Linked DNA regions of Homo sapiens. The protein of the gene in region 1 purifies or fractionates together with the protein of each later gene. This does not show direct contact. Each region holds a gene or a part of one and is shown on either strand. Other genes may lie near its edges.

Evidence for each region. Proteins that work in one complex are often made in the same cells at the same time.
Region 2: the proteins of ARHGAP10 (region 1) and PPP2R2B purify together in Homo sapiens (co-immunoprecipitation; one large-scale study listed by IntAct). This does not show direct contact.

The regions. Positions count from the first base shown.
Region 1 is NC_000004.12:147,738,579-147,742,232, forward strand, and holds part of ARHGAP10 (rho GTPase-activating protein 10), read left to right. Parts: intron 1-3,654. UniProt on the Homo sapiens protein: GTPase-activating protein that catalyzes the conversion of active GTP-bound Rho GTPases to their inactive GDP-bound form, thus suppressing various Rho GTPase-mediated cellular processes. Also converts Cdc42 to an inactive GDP-bound state.
Region 2 is NC_000005.10:146,585,242-146,588,895, forward strand, and holds part of PPP2R2B (serine/threonine-protein phosphatase 2A 55 kDa regulatory subunit B beta isoform), read right to left. Parts: 3' UTR 1-3,654. UniProt on the Homo sapiens protein: The B regulatory subunit might modulate substrate selectivity and catalytic activity, and might also direct the localization of the catalytic enzyme to a particular subcellular compartment.

The DNA of each region.
Region 1 (3,654 bases):
ACCTACTATATTGGATTAAAAGTAGGATTTGTTAATACATGTAAAGCATTTAGTATAAGTGCTCAAAGGTTAACAATTATGATGACATAACTAAATTACAGGCATATATTTTATTATCAAGGCCCTGTTCTTGCCTCAAAATAGCTGTTCTGCACCCTAGACCAGGTATCTAACCTTTTAGTGTTTATTACCCCTAACAGTATATTTCTCCAAAGCACCATTACCAGTGACCAAGAAGAGAGACAAAATTGTCAAACCCTGGAAAGGCTTCCAAATTTTGATTGTAGTTCGGGATGCTGGAAAATCTTGAAAACACATTGGTGGCTGGGCTCAGTGGCTCACGTCTGTAATCCTAGCACTTTGGGAGGCCGAGGCGGGTGGATCACTTGAGGTTAGGAGCTCAAGACTAGTCTGGAGAACATGGTGAAACCCCATCTCTACTAAAAATACAAAAAAAAATTAGCCGGGTCTGGTGGCAGGCGCCTGTAATCCTAGCTTCTCGGGAGGCCGAGGCAGGAGAGTTGCTTGAATCCAGGAGACGGAGGTTGCAGTGAGCTGAGATCACGCCATTGCACTCCAGCCTGGGCAACAGAGCGAGACTCTGTCTCAAAAAAAAAAAAAAAAAGAAAAGAAAATACATTGGCAAATCAGAGCTCAGTGGTATCTTGGGAAAATATTTTCTAGAATTTATTTTTGATTCACAAAGATTTGAAGATAAAGTAGAATGTGTTGCTAAGGTCATTGCAAAACTAGTAAGCAATCTATAGTCGAGGTTCAGGCAGTCAGCAGCAGGCCTTTCCTCCAAGTGACTGATAAGGAAGAGTTGATGACAGAGTTCATCTCAAGGTATTGACATGACAATATAAGTGACTGCAGCCTTCAAATACTTCAAATTACAGAGATACTTTTTGAGGACGTGAACTCAAAATTAGGGTTTCTAGCGTCTGACATGCTGGAAATCCTAACAGCTTGTATTTGCTATGGTAAATTCACAATAAAAGAAGACGACCAGAGACATCCCTAAGAGGGATTTTCCTAAGAGCTGTTAGGTAATCCTGTTCTCTACAGTGGAATACTCAAAAGTGCTCTGGACAAATTCCCAAAGAAGCTGTTTTGAATTCTGTGACTTCAATAGCTGTTTGTCACCTTATATCTTGGGCTTTTTTTTTTTTTTTTGACGGAGTTTCGCTTTTGTTGCCCAGGCTGGAGTGCAATGGCATGATCTTGGTTCACTGCAACCTCCGCCTCCCAGGTTCAAGCGATTCTCCCGCCTCAGCCTCCCAAGTAGCTGGGATTACAGGCGCCTGCCACCACACCCGGCTAATTTTTGTATTTTTTGTAGAGATGGGGTTTCACCACATTGGCCAGGCTGGTCTCGAACTCCTGACATCAGGTGATCCAGCTGCCTCGGCCTCCAAAAGTCCTGGGATTACAGGTGTGAGCCACTGCGTCTGGCCTTACTGGGTTACTTTTTTTTTTTTTTTTTTTGAGACAGAGTCTTGCTCTGTTGCCCAGGCTGGAGTGCAGTGGTGTGATCTTGGCTCACTGCAACCTCCGCCTCCCAGGTTCAAGCAAGTTTCCTGCCTCAGCCTCAGCTGCACACCCTGTAGCTAGTATTATAGGTGTGTGCCACCAGGCCTGGCTACGTTTTGTATTTTTTGTAGAGATGGAGTTTCACCATGTTGGCCAGGCTGGTCCTGAACTCCTGACCTCAGTGAATTCAGAGAGATTAGTAGCTTGTCTAAATCACAATTTGTCATTGATGGAGCTGGAATGTGAACCTAGGTTTGTCTTCACTCCAAAACCCTGAACCACAGTAATGAGCTGTCTCTGTAAAGGGGTGTAACCGTGGTCTTCTGCTAGGGAAGTGATAATCGATCTTGATTATCTAGAGTGTGTGTACATTTGATCTAGTTAGGATATTCTTTTTACATTAGTATGATGACTGATTTAAATTTTGTTAAATTTTAAGACCCCTCTGGGGCCATTATTATAATTTAAACTGATTGCTAATTTGTATTATGAGTACAGTATAGACATTCCAAGGTCGGGTTGATTTAGTATCCATTACAAGACACAGACCTCCACTCTGTCTCTCTCAATCTCCACCTTCCTCTTTTCCTCCCCATTCCTTGTCCTACCCTTCAGTAGAGTAACTTTTAACTTATTCTTTTAGTATTAGGCTTGTTTTTCCTTTGAAAAGTTTGAGATACTTTAGAAATATAAAAAGATAGTCTCACAATAAACATTCATTTATTTTTCCCCCTCCCCCCAGCTTAATGAAAGCATCTTGTATACCCATTCTTTTCCCCAAGGGGTAGGACCTATCTCAGATCTGGTGTTTATTGTTCCTAGGCATTTTGATACAGTTGGGCACATCCATAAACAATATATAATGTGTTTGCATGTGTTTAAACTTTATATAATGGTTTCATCCTATACTTTTTTCCCTCTGAATATATTTGTGAGATTCATCCAATTGGATGTATGTAACTTTATTTCATTTAGTTCAACCTTTTTTTCCTACAAGTGACATTTAAAAGGACTTTGTTAATTGATGTTCTATGATGATGTACCTTCTACCTATGCATTTTTTGGATGATAAAACTAAATATATTTAGGGAATATTCATGATGAAAGCCTTATTGAAATTTGTTTTATAAATTTAGGATACTAGCTTTCAAAACAGTCAGTAATTAATAAATCCATGAATCTTAAAGACATTTAACCCATTTTCTTTTTGGTATTTTGTTACCAGCCCAGCATGGATAATCAGAGTAAGCCAGTTCATGTCTCAGGACTATATGAGAACTGGTTTGAGTCAGAAACAAAAAATCTTTAAAAGCCATTTTGCTTCATTGAAATTAGACTTCTGATTAGAAAGAGAAAAATGATGTTTGTATAAACACAATGTACATGGAGAATTCTGGTAACTGTCAAGCTAGTTGGGGCAGATGAACATGATTTTCAGGCAGGGACTGGATGGTATCTTGTGGTAAGCCCCAAAGCAAACACTGGCAGGTCTGCTTCCCTTACTTATCCTAACACAGGAATGTAATTGCCAGGGGGATGCTTTTGTATTGAGAAGGCCTTGATATTGTTCTCTTTATAAACACATACACACACACACAGAGAAAAACACCAGACACTTTACATTCTAAAGGCAGGCATCTTGATATCGTTCTCTTTACACACACACACACACACACACACGCACACACACACACACACACACACACACACACACACACCAGGCGCTTTGCATTCTAAAGGCAGGCATCTCTGTAAACTCTGAGATGGACTGGAGTCACACCCCAAGTTGCTGCCATAGCTAGGCCTGACTCCCTGGTCCAACTAGAATTTCCTCCCTGTGTTTCCTCAGAAAGACATTAATCCAGTGCCACTTAATATTTCAACGGTGAGTGTGATTTCTCCTGACTTGTTGACTTGTTTACCCACAGGCATCTTCTACCCTCACTCTTGGTGGCAAGTCATGGTGAGATGTGTGGCTGGAAGAACTCAATTTGGCCACAGCAGTGTCACCTCAGGTCAGAATACAGGATGTGGAATGGTCTCTTAAAAAAAAAAATGAGTGCTTTCTTTTCTGACTGTAAAGTTGGCCTCACCGTTTATTAGCTGTGTGACTTTGGGCAA
Region 2 (3,654 bases), on another chromosome or scaffold:
ACTTCCATCTACATGCATACACACACACACACACACACACACACACACACACACACACACATAATGTATGATGGGGATAGTGGATAAGAACTTTAACTAAAACTGCCTGGCTTTGTCACTTGTGAACTGTGTAAATTTGGTTGTCATTCATCTGTTTCTGTATCTATAAAATGAGAACAACAATAGTATCTGCATCTGGAGTTTTAGGGGTAAATAAGTCAATACATGTGAAATTTGTAGAACAAAGCCTGGCTTATAATAAGTGCTCAATAAATGTTAGCAACTATTGTATGTTAGAGCTGTATTTTAACAGCTCTGGCTTTAGAGTCAGATACCTTGAGTTGGAGTCCTGGTTCCATCTCTCTCGGGCTTTGTGCCCTTGGCTAGGTTGACAACTTGAGTCTATTTTCTCATTTGCAAAATGGAAATACTAATGCCACCATGGGGTCTGGGAGAGGAGATAATGAGATGAGGCATGGAAAGCAATAGTATATTACCCATCACTGTTGTTGCTATTATTAGTTTATGGTGCTTTAAACCTATCAAAATAGTTGTAAGTAAATGGATTTCTTGTTCTCCCAATAACAATTCTCTGAGCTAGGATAGATGTCTTTCTGGCCATTTTACAGGTGATGACACTGACATAGGGACTGAGTGGGTAGCTTAAGTTCCATGGTTACCAGGAGCAGGACCCACGTTTCCTGTCTCCCAGTCTCATCCTTTTTCCACTGACCAGGTTGGTTGCTCCCTTGGAAAGCAGTCCCTGAGAGTTGACTTAGAAGTTCAGGGGGAAGAGGTGGATGAAGGCATGTTGGATGCACAGTGAATCAGGTTGCAGTGTGAATGTTTCTCAGTGGTGTGTCTAGACTTCCCCCATCCAAAGACTAACCAGGCCTGACTCCATTTCACTTCCAAGATCAGATGAGATCGGGTGCATTCAGGGTGGTATGTCCAAAGACTGTGTCAGGGGATTTGTTTTGGAAGTGGGGTGGCATTATTAAAAACACACCGGCTTCATCCACACATTCATCACGGAAGAGGGAAAATTAGTAAGGGTTCCACCATTCAGGCTGTGGACTATAGTGTCATCCCTAAATCCTCATTATGAGGCCTACCAGGGCTTTCTTGAGCCCTGCAGGCAGCTAGCAAAGGGACTGAAAAAGAAATGAGGCCTGGGGTTGTCTGGGGAGGGAAGCTTTAGGCAGTTGCTCTGTAGGCTTGAAGGGAGGGAAATTATGGCTTTTCAAGTCCTTAGAAATTGGGCATTTGAGTGTGTACCTTTTATTATAATGGACCCTAGAATATTCAAAGGAAGTTTAGTGGAGATAGCTGACTTATTTCATTGGGCCACTGAGCTAGCAGAATTTTAGCTTCATCTTTATTCCACCTTGCAATTGTTCCATCTTATATATGCTGGTTGCCTAATAGAAGTTGATTTGGTTGAATTAATTACAAGATCAATGAGAGGTTTAAAGGTGCTTTTTTTTCAATGGAAGAGTAAAGGCAGGAGCCAAACTTGAAGGAGTTAAGAAGCAACTTGATTCCCACTGCCCATCTGCCTTTATATATCCCACTTCTTGATGCTGGCTAGTATCTTCCTTTTTTGTTTTTTCTAACTAATCTTCCTCCTCCTGACAGAAGAGTACGAATGTCTACCAAAGTTCAGCTTTTTGCATTACTTGTTTTTAACGTCAGGAACTGAATGTTGCGCAAGGATGGTTTTTGTAAAAGCCAGGGATGGCGTGGCTTCCATTTTCCTTCATTCAACTGACACCCTCCAGTTGTAATCTGATGGCTCTTACCAAGCAGCAGGCCTTGTGGGGTAAAGTAGTATAGGGCCCTTAGAATCGAACCAACTGTTGCAAGGTAGCAAATCAGCCTTCAAGTAGTTTTTAGTGTCAGCAGGAAAACAGACTGACTTCTATGTGCCACTAACTAAGAAATATTGCCAGTACTGGGGCTGAAAGATCACACATGTAAAATACCTAGTTCAGTACCTGGTAAAGAACAGTTAATTTGTGAAACATCGTGGTGGTTATTGCTCCCTGAGGCCTAATCTCTAGGGCTTTCCCCTCCTGTTCCCGTCCAGGAGTCTTGGGTGTTTGCTCTAATGCATCCTTTGCAGGGGATGGAGGAGAGGATGGCTGCCCTCTGCTCTTTCTTCTCTGGCAAACTCATCCTACTCTGGATCCCAGTTTGTACATCTATATGCTAAGGGTGTTGGACTAGTGTAGGGGCTTTTATTTGGAGTTCGCAGATAAACTGCAAAGGGGCCTATGAACTCCTTAAACCATGACAAAAATTATTCCTGTGTGTGTTATGGGCAGCCCTGCTGACTCTAATATGTGAAGAACCACCATCTTTGATGCCCCTAAGGGCATAAATCTTCTGTCATATCAGTTACTCAGGGTCCCAAAGTTTGATACACATGCTCCTGGTGGTTCACAAAATGATTTCAGGTGGTATGTGGGTGCATGTTTGTTACATTGATAATTATGTGATTAATGTTAGGGAAAAACCTAGCATATCAGAGTTGAAATTTCATGCATATTATTTCTTTGGAGGAGGCTAAGTCTTGCTTTTAAGAAAAGGTGACTTAAAAAAATGTTACATGAGTAATAGTACAAATGTGAGTTGATTCTTAAGTTTGAGATACAATGATTGGTCCCAACCCCCGACGTGGTACAGACAGAGGAGCTGAGTCCGGAGAAGTGGAGAAAAGGCCATAAAGGAAGTCGGTGGTAAATGTAGGCCAATAACCCAGTGGCCTTCTGCAAAATCATCACTCTCTATGACTGGCAGAAGTTTCTGACTCTCTCATGTCTCCTCCAAGAACACTGTCCCAGTCAGGACAGAAATCTTGCCCAGAGAGTTTACACCTTAGCCACTTTACTTGAGATGCCTAAGGCGAGGCTTTCCTTGCAGGAAAAATGAGAAATACTGAGAAAGTCTCGTCTTTGTTCCCATGCTCCCTCAATTCTGAGACGTACTTTTTTACATTTTAATGTTCCTGAAATTGGGCTGCATCTAACAAGACTGTTTTTACCTAAGGTGACAGTTATTTCCTTGCCAAAAAGCTATTAGTAAATGGATAGTAGCTTAGAATTGAGATAAAATGATTCTTTCACTATTTTTTCCTCCTCCAAAGCAAATTACACTTGAAAGTCAGGACTTCTAATACATCTGTAAACTGAAAGAAAATTTCCCTTTCATTGAAAAACTCTCATCTCAAACCATTTACCCTGCACTAAATGGGAGTTAGGAGAAATGAGTCATCAAGACAGATGTAGAGATATTAACCCAGAACCAGTTTTCTGGACTCCACCCATCTACTTTCCTAAGTTTATAAATCCTTTGCATGCATTTAGTGCCTTTCCTAGGGGTGTGCCACATAGAACCTTCTGGAAATGGCTTTCTAGAAGTTATAAATCTGGATCCTCAACTGGGGAAAAGGATGAACCATCTTCCACAGCTTCAAGTGGACTTCATTCACTTCATGTCACAGCTGCTTGATTTCCCCACAGTTCATTTCTGTAGAAGAGAGCCTTCTGGTCTGTTTTTCCAGATGGCGAGCTTGGGGTGAGTTAGAAGTGCCTGATTGGACTTCACAACTCAGCGTTTTTATTGGCTATTTTTGTTCTAGGTACAATGGAG